3 separate regions of the Homo sapiens genome follow, and all the other regions are linked to region 3. Evidence: fine-mapped expression QTL. A gene starts in region 3. Each other region holds a variant in brackets. All regions are shown on one strand. Distances are between the middles of the regions.

Region 1 (5,245 bases), 870 kb before region 3:
CACTGGGGCATGCCTGCTTCTCCCGCCAACCCCTGACATCCCCTCTTCCAGACTATAACAGACCCAAGTTCATGCCCATGTTTCTGATGATTCTGTTCCTTCTACCTGGAGCCCCCCATCTCCTGCAATCAGTGTTACGACTCCCACTTGTCCTTCAAGACTCTATGTATCACCTCCTCTGTGAAGCCTTCCCTACCTGTTTGCACTACCACTCAACTTTATATTCTTCCTACACTACAAAGCAATCAGATTGTGCCTCAGTTATGGGCTACTTCTTATTCATCCTGTGTCCTCCTCACAGACTGCAAGCGCTTTGAGGGCACGGTTTGAGTCTTATTCATATGCATACCTTCCAACTCTTAGCAGTGACTGTGATATAATTTAGGGAGTTGGGGGTGGAATGAGGAAGAGATGAGAAGTGAGGGAGAGAGGAGGTGAGTGAGAGAGAAGGTGAGGAAGGAAGGGAGGGAGGAATGAGGGTGGAGGGCATTTTGTGGTTGGAGAGCAACACAACCAGAGTGACTTAGGAAGAATCTCTGAACAAGGCTTTTCTGATGACTATGGATGAATGGTTAGGAATTTGGATGGTCAGATCTGAGGGGAGAATTCAAGCAGAAAGGATAGCCTAAGCAAAGGTCTGCAGTCAGGGAACATGGGGCATGGACACTGGAGGACAGGGTGGGAGGAGAGTAGCAGATAAGGTTGGAGAAGCCACCAGATAGTATCCCAATGCCAAGTATGAAATCACAGGACCTTGCTCTCTACTCTCACATCACAGAGAGCTGCTGAAATATGTCAGAAAGGAGGAGCCATGGTTCAGCAAGTGAACTGATCAGACAGTGGGTCAACTAGAGACATGCCACGGGCAACCTCTGCTAACTTCAGATTGAGAGTAAGACAGGAAAATGCCAAGGATGCCAGGGAAGAGGGAGGAAAGCTATGCCTGTGAATATACAGAAAGAGAAGCAATGGGAAAGGTGGGCCAGCTTATGGGTTCCATGATGGCTGCTACAAGTCTCTATGAGACACCTGGAGTTGGGACAGCATCTGTGTTGGCACTCTCCCCTCCTGTTCTCAAGGCAGACATTACCATTCAAGAGTACCATTCTTCTCGCCTATACCAAGGAAGACATTACTAATCAATGGTGCCACTCTCCATTCCTGTACCCAAGGCAGACATTATTAAATTAATGGCCCTACTCTCCCCTCCTAGACCTGAGGTAGACATTACTCATCAAGGACAACACTCTCCCCTCCTAGACTCAAGGCAGACTTACTCATCAATGGCACCACTCTCCCCTCCTAGACCCAAGGCAGACATTACTCATCAGTGGCACCACTCTCCCCTCCCAGACCCATGGCAGACATTACTAATCAATGGCACCACTCTGCCCTCCTATACCAAAGGCAGACATTAATCATTAATCATCAGTGGCACCACTGTCCCCTCCTATTACTCATCAATGGCACCACTCTTCCCTACTGAGTACAGATATAGCCTTGGCATCCTTGACCTGGGACTGGGTCTAACCTCCACTCCCATCTGACTGCCGTCTATAAATGAGGTGTTACCTACTCTCCATACATGGTTACAGGCATCATAACCTGGGATCAGGGACGTGAGAGCAGAAAGAGCCTGAGAAACCCTCATTTCACAGACACGGAAGCCAAAGTCCTTGGAGAGTTGGTGGTGGAATCAGAGATGAAATCCAGTCCAATCTGCCCCATCTCTTTCTTCAACATTCTGCTGCACCTTGGAGGGTAAAACAGGGAACAAGCCTGTCACCACTCACAGCAACTAGAAGCCAGAGCAGAAAGGACAAGCAAACCTGCCTCAAACTGGCGTCAAACCTGAGTCAATGCTCAGCGGAAATGAAGGCCGGGTGAGTGGGTGTGTGTGCGCGGGCTGTAGAGAAGGGAACAGGAGTTTCACTTCCATCCCTCTGAACAACACAGATCACTTTTGCTAAATTCCAAAAGGTGGCAGCATTCCATCAAATATTCATTTGCTGAGACTGCAGCAGGGGACGTCCTACAGAGGTGACATGGGCAGGAAGTTAAGACGTCCAGATGACTAGGGGATAAGGAAGTCTGGAGGGTCAAACACTGAAGTGGTCTGGTTCCCGGGGGGCCCATGAGCCCCTTTTCTGCAAGAAAAAGGGAAAATGCTGGAGAGAAATAGCAGCACACTTGGCCCCAAGAAGAGGAGAAATCCAGACTCATCTCGGGACTGTATCAGCATGGACAGACCTCAGTGCGGCCCCATGATCAGTAGCATGTAGGCAGGACCCACGAGTTACTTCTAACCAATAGAAAAGATGATGGGCATGCCATGATTATGTTGGGACATGTGTACACAAGACTCCATGTTGCTAACATGCACTAGAGAGACACTCCCGGGAAAAGCACACTGTCACATTGTAAACTGCCTGTGGAGAGGGCCATGTGGCAGGGAACCGTAGGTGGCCTCTAGGGTCTGAGGGCCTGCATCTTACAGCCACAAGAAATTGAATTATTCCAACAACCAGTGAGATTGCAAAGGGACCCTGAGCTCCAGATGAAACTCCCAGCTCCTGCCAACTCCCTTGCCTGCAGCTTGGTGAGAACCTAAGCAGAGAACCCAGTTCAGCTGTGTCCAGACCTATGACCAATCGAAGCAATAAGATGGTAGACAGGTGTTGTTTGAAGCCACTTAGTCTCTTAAGCACGCATAAAAAATGAATTTTTTGTATTCTTATTACAGAAAAATACAGGGGTTTTGAAATATGGCTCTGGAATGAGGCAGAACAAAGTAAAAATTTGGGTTCTTCCACTTAACTGCACTATGCTTACTGCCTTGGCTATAGAAGGGGAGAGTGACACCATTGATTAGTAATGTCTGCCTGGAGTATAGAAGGGGG[G/A]AATGGCACCATTGATTACTAATGTCTGCCTTGGGTATAGGAGGGGAGAATGACACCATTGCTTAGTAATGTCTGCCTTGGGTATAGGAGGGTATAGTTTCTACTATATCAAGAAAGAGAGAAAAAATAATAGTGCGGTTCTTACGCTGGACAGCATCACTTCCACGAGTTCAGGATGCATTTGCTCCAGAGTGAACCCAAAAGGAAACATGTACCTGCAAGTTTCTCAGTCTCATTCCCAAGTGCCTCTCCATCTTGTGGCCACATGATCACAGATGACTGCAATGTTTAAAGACAGGTATGTTTCATTCATCCACCATGCCACCTCAACACAATCACTTCATCTGGCATCTAAGCAAAGACCCTCATTTTTTCTAATAATCAAGGAAAGTGTGGCTGTATTTGATGTATCGAGGGGCAGAAAGATTGGTCTCCAACAGGACTTGCACAAGTAATTGACCAGGTGTAATTTTTATGTTACCTGATGACTCTGGAATTAACTTTGCATCTAAGACACAGGTTCCCAGAAATGCTCCCTGCATCACCAAAAAGAACCTGCTGGCCTTCCCCTCAGCTCAATGCAGCATGGGAAACAGCCCAATCTGGGTCTGAATTTCAGACTGCTTCCCCATTAGCTATGAGACTGTGCAAGCCATGCCCTTCTGAGCCTCAGTTTCCCCATTTGTAAACAAATAGTTTGAATAGGTCTTCCCTCCTTGGACTACTCTGGGTAGAGAAAGATACAATGCCTGTGAAATGGTGGGTGCAATGCCAGGTACTTCCTAGTTCCCAAAGATGCTAGCTGTTATGATTATTTTATTCTGAATGCTGGCAAAATATACTTTCTGCATCCAGGGAAAGCCCTTTCTGGGAGACAGTGCCAAAGCAGACAGGTGGAGGTCAGAAAAAGTAGAGCTGACTGGTGCCACAGGGCAGTGAGTAGGAAGGGCGGTGAGATGCCATGGCCTGGAGTGTTCTGCATTCTGGAGCAGGCAAGGACCAAAAAGTCTATCTAAAGGCCACATTTAGTCTTGTAAACCCCATTTTCACTCCTCTAGAGGAACGACACAGCATTTCCATGACAACTGAGAATGAAACTTGAACGAATATGCCGTCAGCTCTCCTGGAAAACCTTCTTAACAGTCCAGAACACACTGCTTAATTTCATAAATAGTTATTACTATTACTAGTATTAGTACTATTATTACAACTACATTATTACTACTATTACTACTACTGCTTCTTACTATATTACATTTATTACAACTACATTATTACTAATATTATATTATTACTACCACTGTCAAAGAAAATAACTGCTCACTATAGAAAAAAAATAAAAGGGTCTAAAGGAAAATGCAAAAACCAGTAATTTAGTTGAACTTTCCATCTGCCTTTCTGACATCTCTCTGCACTCAGAGAAAGGGAGATCTATGAATACAGTTTGCACACAATTGGAATCATATAATACAGGCTGTATTTCTCACTCAACAGTATGTCATGTGCATCTTTCCAAGTCAATAAACATAAATCCTCACCACAAAATCCTAGCAGCAGCTTGGAATTGGACTTTATGGATATACACAATTGACTTAAACTATCCCTTACTGAGGGATATTGAGGGTACATCTTTTTAAAAATTATTTGTGCTACTACAATCATTTCCTTAATAAATATACAAACACATCTCACACTTGTACAATCATCTCCAAGGTGCAAATTCCCAGAAGTGTAATTGCTAGACCAAAGATGGAACACATTTTACATTTTGACACATGTGAATGTGAGGCAATCTGCCATCCAGAGATGGTCAGGCCAACATATGCTGCCTCCAGTAGAGGTCGTCAAAATGACTGCTTCTACCCATGACACATTCCAAGGCAAGACAGGAAGCTGACCTGTGAGAGTCCAGCCAGAAGGACCCAGCTCAGCAGCCCTGCTACAGTCAGAGGGTGGAGATGGAGGAGCAGGTTAAGGCAACTGGATCCTCACAGCCTGAATCTCTGCAAACCTAGAAGACTCTACAGCCTCCAGAGGAGAAACCAGCAGGATACCATCATCCCTTCCACTAGAGAGAACACATCAGCCTCCATGAGTGAGGTTGGGGGCCAGGAAATACCTGACCCAACCCAAGAGAGCTAAAAATCTAGCAGGCATAGGCACTATTCTAAGCACTGGGGAAATGGAGCCATCTCAGACACCTTTGATCCTATTGTGGGCAATTAACTTTTTCAACTACTTTCCCTTCAAAAGCTTCTGTGCCACCAATATCAAGGCTCTTTAGTAAGTCACTTTCCTGCTCCACGCCTCATTTCCCCATCTGCAAAATGTGTTTAGTATCTTTG
Region 2 (5,245 bases), 27 kb before region 3:
CACCTCTCAAGGGCTCAGTCGTCACACATGGCCAGTGGCTACTGTACTGGATGGCACAGACAGGACCCTTCTGACACACCGAAATCTCTATAGACAGTGCCTCTCCACCTCCTTCCAGCCCCATTTGAAGGAGTAGAGGAAGCCTCTTACTCATTCCTGCTGCTTCAGTTTCAGTTGTGGAACTCCTTGAGATTAGAAAGAAGTCCTGCCACCTGCTGTTTCAGTTCATTTTTCAGGGCCTTGCGTGGATGGGGCACATGGGCAGTGCTGACCAGCTGCCTTTCTTCCTGTGGCAGTGCTGCTGGCTGCACACTGCTGGCCTTTTGCAGCCAACAGAGGAGGCACATCCCCTAATGCTTGACCACGGCGTGAGCTGACCGCAGTCAGAAAATCCTGCCATCGGGGTGGCCAAGAAATCGGGGTTTCTTCCCAGCCGGCCAGCCTCTTTCCTGGCCACCACAGCTTCAGTGTTTGGGGTTCCCGGCATGGCTTCCTTCTGTCACTGCACCGACACCTCTGCACACATGCCTCATGGCCATCACTGAGCTGAGAGGGGCAGGCTGTGCTCCCCAAGGGGACTACGCTCCCTTAGAGGTGTGGAATGTTGAATAAGAGGAAGCCTGAGATGGGTCCCTGACGCTGGGTTTGTAGTTGCCTAGGGATGTCTCTTGTCCAAGTGCTATTGCAGAGCTCAATTCTAAGACCCAATTTCATTCAACTCACCTTTCCTGGAATTAGGAAATAGATCATCTCAGAGCACCTGTTGATAATTTCTTTTTTTTTTCTTTTTTTTTTTTTCTTCCCTGAGATGGAGTCTCGCTCTTTTGCCCAGGCTGGAGTGCAGTGGCACGATCTCGGCTCACTGCAACCTGTACTTCCCGAGTTCAAGCGATTCTCCTGCCTCAGCCTCCCAAGTACCTGGGATTACAAGCGTGCTGCCACCATGCCTGGCTAATTTTTGTATTTTTAGTAGAGATGGGGTTTCACCATGTTGGTTAGGCTGGTCTCGAACTCCTGGCCTCAGGTGATCCACCCACCTCGGCCTCCCAAAGTGCTGGAATTACAGGTGTGAGCCATTGCAGCTGGCCAGATAATTTCAAAAAATCTAGCAAATGCAGTTCTGTGAACTTCTGAAATTAGTCCAGCGCTGACTCAGGGCTCTTCTGGCCCAGGGTCTATCCCAGGGTCTATCAGGAGGACCAAGGAATAGAGGGTAAGAATGTGATGGGGAAACGATTGTGGTGACAGGGAGAGACCATGGAGTAGAGCAGGCTGGGAGCTGGCTGCAGGGAACACTGCCACACGGCTGGGCAGAGGGAGGGAGGCTGCAGACAGCCCGGGGGTGGGCAGCCGGCTGGGGTGCCTGAGATGAGGGGTGTGGGGCCCTGCGGGGATTTTTCCTTCTGGCCTTCTGGGAGCTGGTGGGGAGATCACTGTCTGTGTGCAGGGCTCAGAGCTGCTTTCTGATGACGAGGTGCCCCTCGGGATAGGGGGACAGTTCTTAAAACACCAGGCAGAGGCTCAGCCAGAGGATCTGTCCCTGGAGGAAGAGGCTCGATTCTCCAGCCAGCAGCCCCCAGCCCAGCTGAGCCACAGGCCACAGAGGGGCCCGCTGTTGTGGCCAGAGAGAGGTGAGTAGCACCCCTTTGGAGGAATGAGAAGTGGTGCAGGGGAGGGAGGTGAAGGTGACTGGGGTGTGGACTGTGGCCAGGGCAGAGGCCTGCCTGGATGCAGGGTGCACAGGCTCTCCAGCAAGGAGTGGATCTTGGGTGGGCAGCCGCCGGGCTGTTGGGGCCTTGGTGTGCAGGGGACGGCAGGGGCAGTACTGGGTGAGCTGTGTGACTGGTGGTGACTCTGCTCCTTCCCAGGCCCTCCAGCTCCCCGGCATCAGGAGATGGCGTCAGCCTCGCCCTTCCTTTCGGCCTGGTCCCAGGTGAGTGGGATGCTCCTGGTCTGCAGCATCCTGGGGTCTGGCCCGACCTCCTGTGTGTCACACTTCCTTGTTAAGGGGACACCTCTCCTGGGGGCCAAGGTTTTGGATGTCAGAGGAGCTCTTCCCTGGAGTTTTCTCCCTTTGCCCCAACCCTGGAGTCACTTCCCCTGGCCTCCTGGGAAGTCTTTTCTTCTCTCCAGAGGCCATTTAAGTACTCGGCTGTGCCCGGAAGATTCTGCGGTCCACCAGTGAGACAGGGTGGTGACTCCTACTCTGCTGGGCACAGGAATCTCTTGGGACTCTGGGGGAAAACACAGCTTCCTCCCACACCGCTGGGCTGGAATGGGAGTCTCCTTTGTTTGCTTGCTGGTTTTTTTGGGGTTTTTGTTTGTTTGTTTGTTTGTTTGTTTGTTTTGAGCCAAAGTCTGGCTCTGTGCTCACGCTGGAGTGCAGTAGTGTGATTACAGCTCACTGCAGCCTTGACCTCCCAGGCTCAAGGGATCCTCCTGCCTCAGCCTCCTCAGTTAGTTGGGACTACAGGCATGCACCACCACACCCGGCTAGTTGTTTTTTTTTTGTTTTTTTTTTAATGGGACACAGTCTCGCTGTGCTGCCTAGGCTGGTCTTGAACTCCTGGGCTCAAGTGATCCTCTTGCCTAAGTCTCCCAAAGCACTGGGATTACAGGCATAAGCCACCATGCCTGGCCTGTTTTATTTTTATTTATTTATTTATAATTTTTATATGTGTGTGTGTGTGTGTGTGTGTGTGTGTGTGTGTGTGTGTGTGTGTGTATGTATGTGTATTTGTTTTGTTTTGTTTTTGTTTTTTTGAGACAGAGTTTTGCTCTTGTTGCCCAGGCTGGAGTGCAATGGTGCGATCTCGGCTCACTGCAACCTCCGGCTCCCGGGTTCAAGCGATTTTCCTGCGTCAGCCTCCTGAGTAGCTGGGATTACAGGCACCCACCACCATGCCTGGCTAATTTTTTTTGTATTTTTAGTACAGATGGGGTTTCACCATGTTGGCCAGGCTGGTCTGGAGCTCCTGACCTCAGATGATCCACCTGCCTTGGCCTCCCAATGTGCTGGGATTAC[G/A]GGTGTGAGCCACCGCGCCCGGCCGAACATTTCCTTTAGACCCTCCCCGAAAACCCCCTAGACTCATTACCAGAGTCTCTACCTGTTTTTCCCTCAGCCTCTGGCAACCACAAAGCTCCTTCTTGTCTCTGTGAATTTGCCTGTTCTGGAAAGAGTTTGCTTGTTTTTTTAATCATGCTTCCGGGTCAATCTGGTGCTACATCTGGGAGCCACTGGCCCAGAGGCATCCTGAAGTCCCCCGTCTGCCGCAATGGGGTCCTGGGGCTGGCTAGCCACGGAGCCAGGGGATGCTCTTGTCTCCCTGTGGAGCATGGGCCTCGGTGGCTGAGTGTGCAGTGGGTCCACCACTCCTCGTGGCGAATCTGTCCCTTCTCCGGTGGTGTCCCAGCTCTGCAGCAGTGGCACATGGGAGCAGTGGGCGGAGACACCAGGACTCACCACTGCAACGAGAGTGGAGAAGACCAGCTGCACCACCAGGCTTGGCGCCAGCCTCGAGGGGCAGTGGCGGTGCAGCTCCCTGGGCCAGTGGCCTTAGTTGGGGAGGAGGCAGCTTGCTTGGGGCCAGGACTGAGTGGGGTGCGTTCTGGCAGGTGCCCGTGAACTTGGAGGACGTGGCTGTATACCTTTCTGGGGAGGAGCCAAGATGCATGGACCCAGCTCAGCGGGACGCGCCGCTGGAGAATGAAGGTAACTTGCAAGTGATTGTGTCCTCTAGGGGGCTTGCCAAAAATAGGAACTGTCAGGCACCAGCTCCGGGGCTTGGTTCTGTTGGTCCAGTTGGCCTGGGGCGATCCTCCGTGGACAGGGCTACCCGTATCCCTGCAGAGTCCCACCTGCAGGGCCTGCACAGCCACTCGGCCGTGACTCAGGCAGATGCCCAGCACTGCCTTGCCATCCTGTTCTTCTGCCTCTGCCCCCTACATGCTGGTCCTACTTCACTTCAGCTTCCCTGTGCCCTCCTCTCAAGGGCAGAGCTGCTCCCACAGGACCTGGTTCTCCAGCCTCTCCCCATCACACTGAGCACTGCCCTGCCTGTTACCCAGCACCGTCCCCTAAGCTCTTTCTCTGTCCGTTTGTCTCTTCCTGCCTTTCCTGATGCTGCTGAAGCCTTTTCTGGTTTTTTGTTTGCTTGTTTGTTTTGAGATGGATTTTTGCTCTGTTGCCCAGGCTGGAGTGCAGTGGCACAACCTTGGCTCACTGCAACCTCCACCTCCTGGGTTCAAGCGATGCTCCCACCTCAGCCTCCCAAGTAGCTGGGATTACAGGTACTCGCCATCATGCCTGGCTAATTTTTGTTTTATTAGTAGAGATGGGTTTCATCACCATGTTGGCCAGGCTGGTCTCGAAGTCCTGACTTCAGGTGATCCGCTGGCCTAGGCCTCCCAAAGTGCTGGGATGACAGGTGTGAGCCACCGTGCGTGGCCATGCTGAAGCCTTTTCTAATGACAGTGAGATATCGCTTTGTATTAGGGTTCTTCTCCAGAGAAACAGAACCAACAGAAGATACACACACACACAGATTTATTTTAAGGAATGGGTACTTAGACAGCTCCCTTGGTTGCTTACAGAAGTTGACAAGTCTGAAATCTGCAGGCCAGGCCAGCAGACTGGAAGCTTAGGATTTCTGTGCCACGGTCTTGAGGCAGACTTCCTTCTTTGGGAAACCTCCAGAATTTTTTTCCTTTTTAAGGCTGAAGAATATTCCATTGTAAATAATGCTGCAGTGAACGTGGGTGTACAAGTGTATCTCTGATCAACTCTGCTTTCCGTTCCTGGGTGGATGTATCCAGCAGTGGGATGGCTGGAGCATATGTGGTCATTCTGTGTTGAATTTTTTGAGGAGCCGCCATGCTGTTTTCCACAGCATCTGCACCATCTCATGCACCCAGCAAGAGTGCACAAGGGTTCCAGTTTCTCCACATCCATACCAATGGTTGTTATTTTCAGGGTTTTTTTTTTTTTTTGAGATGAAGTCTTGCTCTGTTGCCCAGGCTGGAGTGGAGTGGCACGATCTCAGCTCAGCTCACTGCAACCTCCGCCTTCCAGGTTCAAGCGATTCTCCTGCCTCAGCCTCCCAAAGTAGCTGGGATTACAGGTGTGTGCCACCATACCCGGCTAATTTTTCTATTTTTAGTAGAGCTGGGTTTTGCCATGTTGGCCAAGCTGGTCTCGAATTCCTGATCTCAAGTGATCTGCCTGCCTCAGCCTCCCTAAGTGCTG
Region 3 (5,245 bases):
ATACTGTCTCTTAACGCCCAGTGCCAACCTGTGCACTGAGCAGCCCCCGCCAGGAGCATCTTTAGCAGGGTCTTATGCCTGCACCTAGGGCTATTGGTCTGAGCGTCTTTGAGAGCCATTTCAGGGACCCCAAACCACAAATGCAGAATCCCTCGAAGGCTTATCACAATGCACTGGAATTGTGCATTCTCAGTGGGTGTTCTGGCCCTGTCCTGGCACGAGAGAGTGGAGAATAGCAGAATGGAAAGGACAGAGCTTCTGCATCAAATTGACCTGGGTTCCAAGTCAGCACCAAAAACTCCACTGAAAGGGTCTCCCAAGATGCTGAGCACCAATACCCATGCTCAGAGATGACAATCAAGGCAGAAGAAAGAGTAAAGAAGGAAATAGGCACCCAGAAAACACAACTTTGAGTCTGGCCATGCGATTTAAAGTAAAATGACAACAAACTGCACAGGTCAGCAGGAAAAGTCTTCAGAGAAGTGCTCCAAAGCTGTCCTGGCCAGCGTCATGCCTGCTCTGGTAGGAAGGACAAGGCATCCAGGGAGAGAGTTCTTGCTTACCAAAGGGGAGTCTGAGTCCAGAGACGGGAGCTGGTCTTTGACAGCCTTGAGGATGGCATCCCAGGGCCCCATCTGGGAGGCCCAGGGAGAGCCCAGCGAGGGTGCCATGCCTTTATCGTTGGATGCCATGAGGGCCCAGGCTTCCAGATGCCTTCTCAGTGCACCATAATCCGGGGAGCTCTGTGGGGTACACAGGGTGATGGAAGAGGGTCCGGGCCACTGAAGGTCAGGAGAGCAGGGGCTGCTCTACCAGCTGTAGGAGACCAAACAGGCTGGCAGGCCTCACCACCTGCCTCAGTTTCCTTCTAGTTATGCAAGCTCCTGTTAGTGCCAGGCACTGTGTGTGTACGTGTGTGTGTGTGTTCCCACTCATGCACACATGTGGAGCCTGCAGGTATATAATGTATATAGTGATATATACATAATAATATACAAATATATGTATTGATATAAATATACCTATGTAGATATATGTACATGTTATATAGAATGCCATATGTACGATATATAATGATATATAGGTATATTTTATATATACCCCATATAGCATAACTATTCTCTTCATTTCATAGGCTCAGGGTGTTTAGTAAATAGCAACAGTGGACTCTGAATCAGGGGGAATTTCAAGTCCTACTACCCTTTACTGCCCTTTACCAAGGAACAGAAGACACCTTGCTTTTTTGTTTTGGAGACAGGGTCTGGCTTTGTCGCCCAGGCTAGAGTGCAGTGGTACAATGATAGCTCACTGAAGCCTCGGCCTCCTGAGCTCAAGTGATCCTCCCACCTCAGCCTCCTGAATAACTGGGACTACAGGTGTGTACCACCACATCTGGCTAACATTTTTATTTTTTGTAGAGATGGAGTCTCCCTGTTGCCCAGGCTGGTCTCAAACTCCTGGCCTCAAGTGATCCTCTTGCCTCAGCCTCCCAAAGTGCTGGGATTACAGGCATGTGCCATCGCGCCTGGCTGACAGTTTGGAGTCACTAAGTGATTTTTTTTTTTTTTTGGAGTCACTACTCTGACCAGCCCCTGCATTTATATCTTAGAGTCTTAAAGGAGATGGTCCTGTTATTCAGGGGGCTGGGGAGCTTGAGCTTGAGAGCTGGGGGGTGAGGGTCCTCTAGAGCCAGTGTCAGGAGAACTCTGCAGCTCGAGAGGCCGCTGTGGCTTTGGCCCTGCAGTCAGTGCCCGTTCATCCCCAATCAGGGCAGCGGCAGGAGATGTGAATTGGGGGCTGCTTGCTTCCTCTGTACTTCTGGGAATAGGGCAGGTGCTTGGTGCACTCTGAACTGGGAGCAGCGGGTTGGGGACGCATCTGGTGCACACAGCCAGCGGGTGTTTTTTGTAACTAGAGCTCTGTTCCGCAATTCAGGGCACAGTATTTCTTAGGGCAACAGAATCGTCGGGATGAAGAGGGCCTCCAGAGACTCTGATAAACCCTTCAGGCGGACAAGACAATAGGGGAGGGAACGGCATTACCGGCAGAAGGAAGAGCATGTACAGTAGCTCAAAGGAATGAACCGCCCAACAGGTTTAAGGGAAGAAAGTGTCAGTTGCTGGACTCTCCGGTGAAAACGGACCAGACAATGCAGGGCCCTGAACGCCAAGTTGAGGAGCTCAGAGCATCCAGAAGGCGAAGGGGAGGCTCGGAGCCGCCTCTGAATAACGGCCTTCCGGCTCCGTCTCGGGGTGGGTTTCTCAGCTGCAGCCTGTTAGCCCCGCCACAGCCCCGCCCCGGTTCTCAGAGCCCCGCCCCCAGCCGGCCTGCCACGAGGCTGCCGGTTGTTATGGCAACCAGACGCCAACAGCCTCCCGGGTCGAGCTTTTAAATTTTAAAGCTGTGGAAGTGGAAAGCCCATCGCTCCTCCTCTCACCCACCCCCAGCCCGTATTTCCCCGCGTTTTGTTCAACTCCCTGCAGGCGCAGCAGGCCCGAGGCCCCTCACCTCAGGCCTCTGCCTCCACTCCCCGCGCTGTCCTGACAGCGCTATAAACAGCCTCCAGCGCGTCACTCCGCTCGCGTCCGCCCCTCGGGCCGCGCCGCAGGTACAGAGGCTGTCCCCTTCTTCAGCACTCTCCCTCTCAGCGGAGCTTTACATTACTAGACTGCCTCCGCCTTCCCCCCACCCCGCCCAGCTCCTCTTTCGGGCCTTTGCGCGTCCTGCCTCTCCTGCAATGGGATTGGTTCCCCTGGAGGGCGGGGACGGAGCAGGACAAACACCACTAGCTCATTGGCTACCGCGGGCATCAGACAGCGAGCCGGGAAGCTGACCGGAAGGTCCGGGTGCGGGACGTGTGCATTCCACGGCGCCCGGGAGCTGTCCCGGTGCCGACCCGCGAGCTTCCCGGCGTGCTCCGCGCCCTCCCGCAACTACTTCCGGGGCGGGTGCCGGGGGCGGTGCCCCGGCGAGGGAGCGTGGCGGCGAGCTGTTTGGGGGGGGTTGGCGACGGCAGCCCGAGGGCGGCGCAAGGCCTGAGGCCCAGCACAGGTGGGTTCCGCGGCGGCCCGGCCCCAGCACTTGCCGGCACCTGCAGCCCGCCTAGACCCGGCGCTCGGGCGTCCCGCGCTGCACTTGCTCGCCGCGTGACTGGAGGACCGAGCCCCCACATTTTCTTTATGTGGTTGTGGTGGGGGCACAGTAATGCCCTGTGCGCCGTAGCGTTCCTGTGGGGATGTGGCCGGGGGGCGTCGGGAAGCGTCACTGCTGTGAGTTACGGGTTTGTCGGCCAGGGACCCGCCCCGGGGCCAGTGAGCTACCTTTGCGATGCGGTTCCACGGGGCGAGAGGGGGTGCCTGGGTGCTTTCACAGACCTCCTCTGTGGGCGTGACAGTTACCACCAGCATCACATTTGTTAAGATTTTTAAAAATTTTTTAATTTTTGTGGGTACGTAGTAGGTGTATATATTTATGGCGTATATGAGAGATTTTGATACAGGCATGCAGTTCGTAATAATCACATGTAAAATGGGGGTCTCCATCCCTTCAAGCATTTATCCTTTGTGTTACAAACAATATGATTATACTCTTTGAATTATTTTTAAATGTGCAGCCGGGCGCGGTGGCTCACTCACGCCTGTAATCCTAGCACTTTGGGAGGCAAAGGCGGGCGGATCACCTGAAGTCAAGGATTTGAGACCAGCCTGGCCAACATGGGGACACTTCGTCTCTACTAAACATACGAAAACTAGGCTGGCATGGTGGCTCATACCTGTAATCTCAGCTACTCGGGAAGCTGAGGCAGGAGAATCGCTTGAACCCAGGAGGCGGAGGTTGCATTGAGCCGAGATCACGCCGCTGCACTCTAGCCTGGGTAACAGAGTGAGATTATGTCTCAAAAAAAATAATAATAAATAAATAAAATGTGCAATTAGATTATATTGACTATAGTCACCCTGTTGTGCGGTCAAATACTAGATCTTTTTTTTTTTTTTTTTTTTTTTGAGACGGAGTCTCGCTTTGTCGCCCAGGCTGGAGTGCAGTGGCTTGATCAAATACTAGATCTTATTCATTCTGTTTTTTTTGTATCCATTAAGCATCCCCACCCTCCACTACCCTTCCCAGCCTTGGTTACACTAGAAGTAACCATCCTTCTACTTTCTATGTCCATGAGTTCAGTTGTTTTGATTTTTAGATAACCACAAATAATTGAGAACATGCAATATTTATCTTTCTGTGCCTGGCTTATTTCACTAAACATAACGATCTCCGCTTCCATCCATGTTTTTGCAAATGATAGGATCTCATTCTTTTTTTATGGCTGAATAGTACTCCATTGTGTCTAAGTACCACATTTTCTTTAGGATTCACTGTAAAGGTAACAGATACTTAGCATTTTCAGAATGGACAGAACCAAAAAGTTGAATGAAAACTAAAACGTCTTATCTCTAATGCTACTTTACACCACACCACTCGGGATGGGACATTTTAGTTTTCACTTTAGTGTTTTTTTTTTGTTTTTTTTTTTGAGACAGAATTTCGCTCTGTTGCCCAGGCTGGAGTGCAGTGGCTTGAGCTCGGCTCACTGCAATCGCCTCCCAGGCTCAAGCGATTCTCTTGCCTCAGCCTCCTGAGTACTGAGACTACAGGCGCCCACCACCACACCCAGCTAATTTTTGTAATTTTAGTAAAGATGGGAGTTCACCATTTTGGCCAGGGTGGTCTCGAACTCCTGGCCTCAAGTGGTCCGTCACGCTTGGTCTGGTTCTCATTGTCCTTCAGACCTCTGGGGATGTCAGATATGCAAGTCTCCAGTAAATAGAGAACACGGCCTCACCCTGCAGGAGGCCTTTGGCGTGGAAGAGACATGCCCAGTGAAGGCTTGAGGGAGGTATGGAAGGGACTCTGAACTGACCCTCAGCTCGTTTGGTTTCTTATCCAGGCTTCGTTGGCCAGGGCTGTTAGGGTGGGATTCTCACCTGCAAAGTGAGGGAAGGGCACTGCACGATCTTGGGCTCTGCTAGCTGAAGAGGTGGTGGCTCCAGGAAGGAGGGCTTTGCTTGCCCCACCGCACCTACACACACTCTTCACCAAGGGTCTGTGAAGTGTTCGTCTCCCACATTGGTGGCTTGTTTCTTTAGCCATCTTGGCTGTCACCTGGGGCTTGGAAGCATTCTTTAATAGAAACTGAGGTCCTCATCGCATCTATTAACTACCATAGCACCTGTAGGTCATCACAACCTGA

What was found. PIP is the estimated chance that this variant, and not a neighbour inherited with it, causes the effect.
Region 1: its variant is fine-mapped to the expression of DNAAF8 in spleen (GTEx, PIP 0.98).
Region 2: its variant is fine-mapped to the expression of DNAAF8 in nasal epithelium (TOPMed, PIP above 0.99).

What each region holds. Positions count from the first base shown.
Region 1 is chr16:5,601,679-5,606,923 of GRCh38, reverse strand. The region is part of intron 2 of LINC01570 (long intergenic non-protein coding RNA 1570); the gene reads left to right. It also overlaps a transcript of RBFOX1 not described here. Among named protein-coding and RNA genes, the nearest start is that of LINC01570, 12 kb to the left of the region's middle. The variant G/A (reference allele first, on the strand shown) is at 2,901.
Region 2 is chr16:4,758,959-4,764,203 of GRCh38, reverse strand. ZNF500 (zinc finger protein 500) reads left to right here. Exons shown (of 6, transcript NM_021646.4): 3 at 1,448-1,631; 4 at 1,869-1,933; 5 at 3,616-3,712. Among named protein-coding and RNA genes, the nearest start is that of ZNF500, 5.6 kb to the left of the region's middle. The variant G/A (reference allele first, on the strand shown) is at 3,026.
Region 3 is chr16:4,731,962-4,737,206 of GRCh38, reverse strand. It overlaps DNAAF8 (dynein axonemal assembly factor 8), which reads right to left and starts at 2,670. Exons shown (of 10, transcript NM_139170.3): 1 at 2,509-2,670; 2 at 564-743. The coding sequence starts at 692. ANKS3 (ankyrin repeat and sterile alpha motif domain containing 3) reads left to right here and starts at 2,936. Exons shown (of 18, transcript NM_133450.4): 1 at 2,936-3,269. RefSeq lists silencers at 2,811-3,040, 3,091-3,150.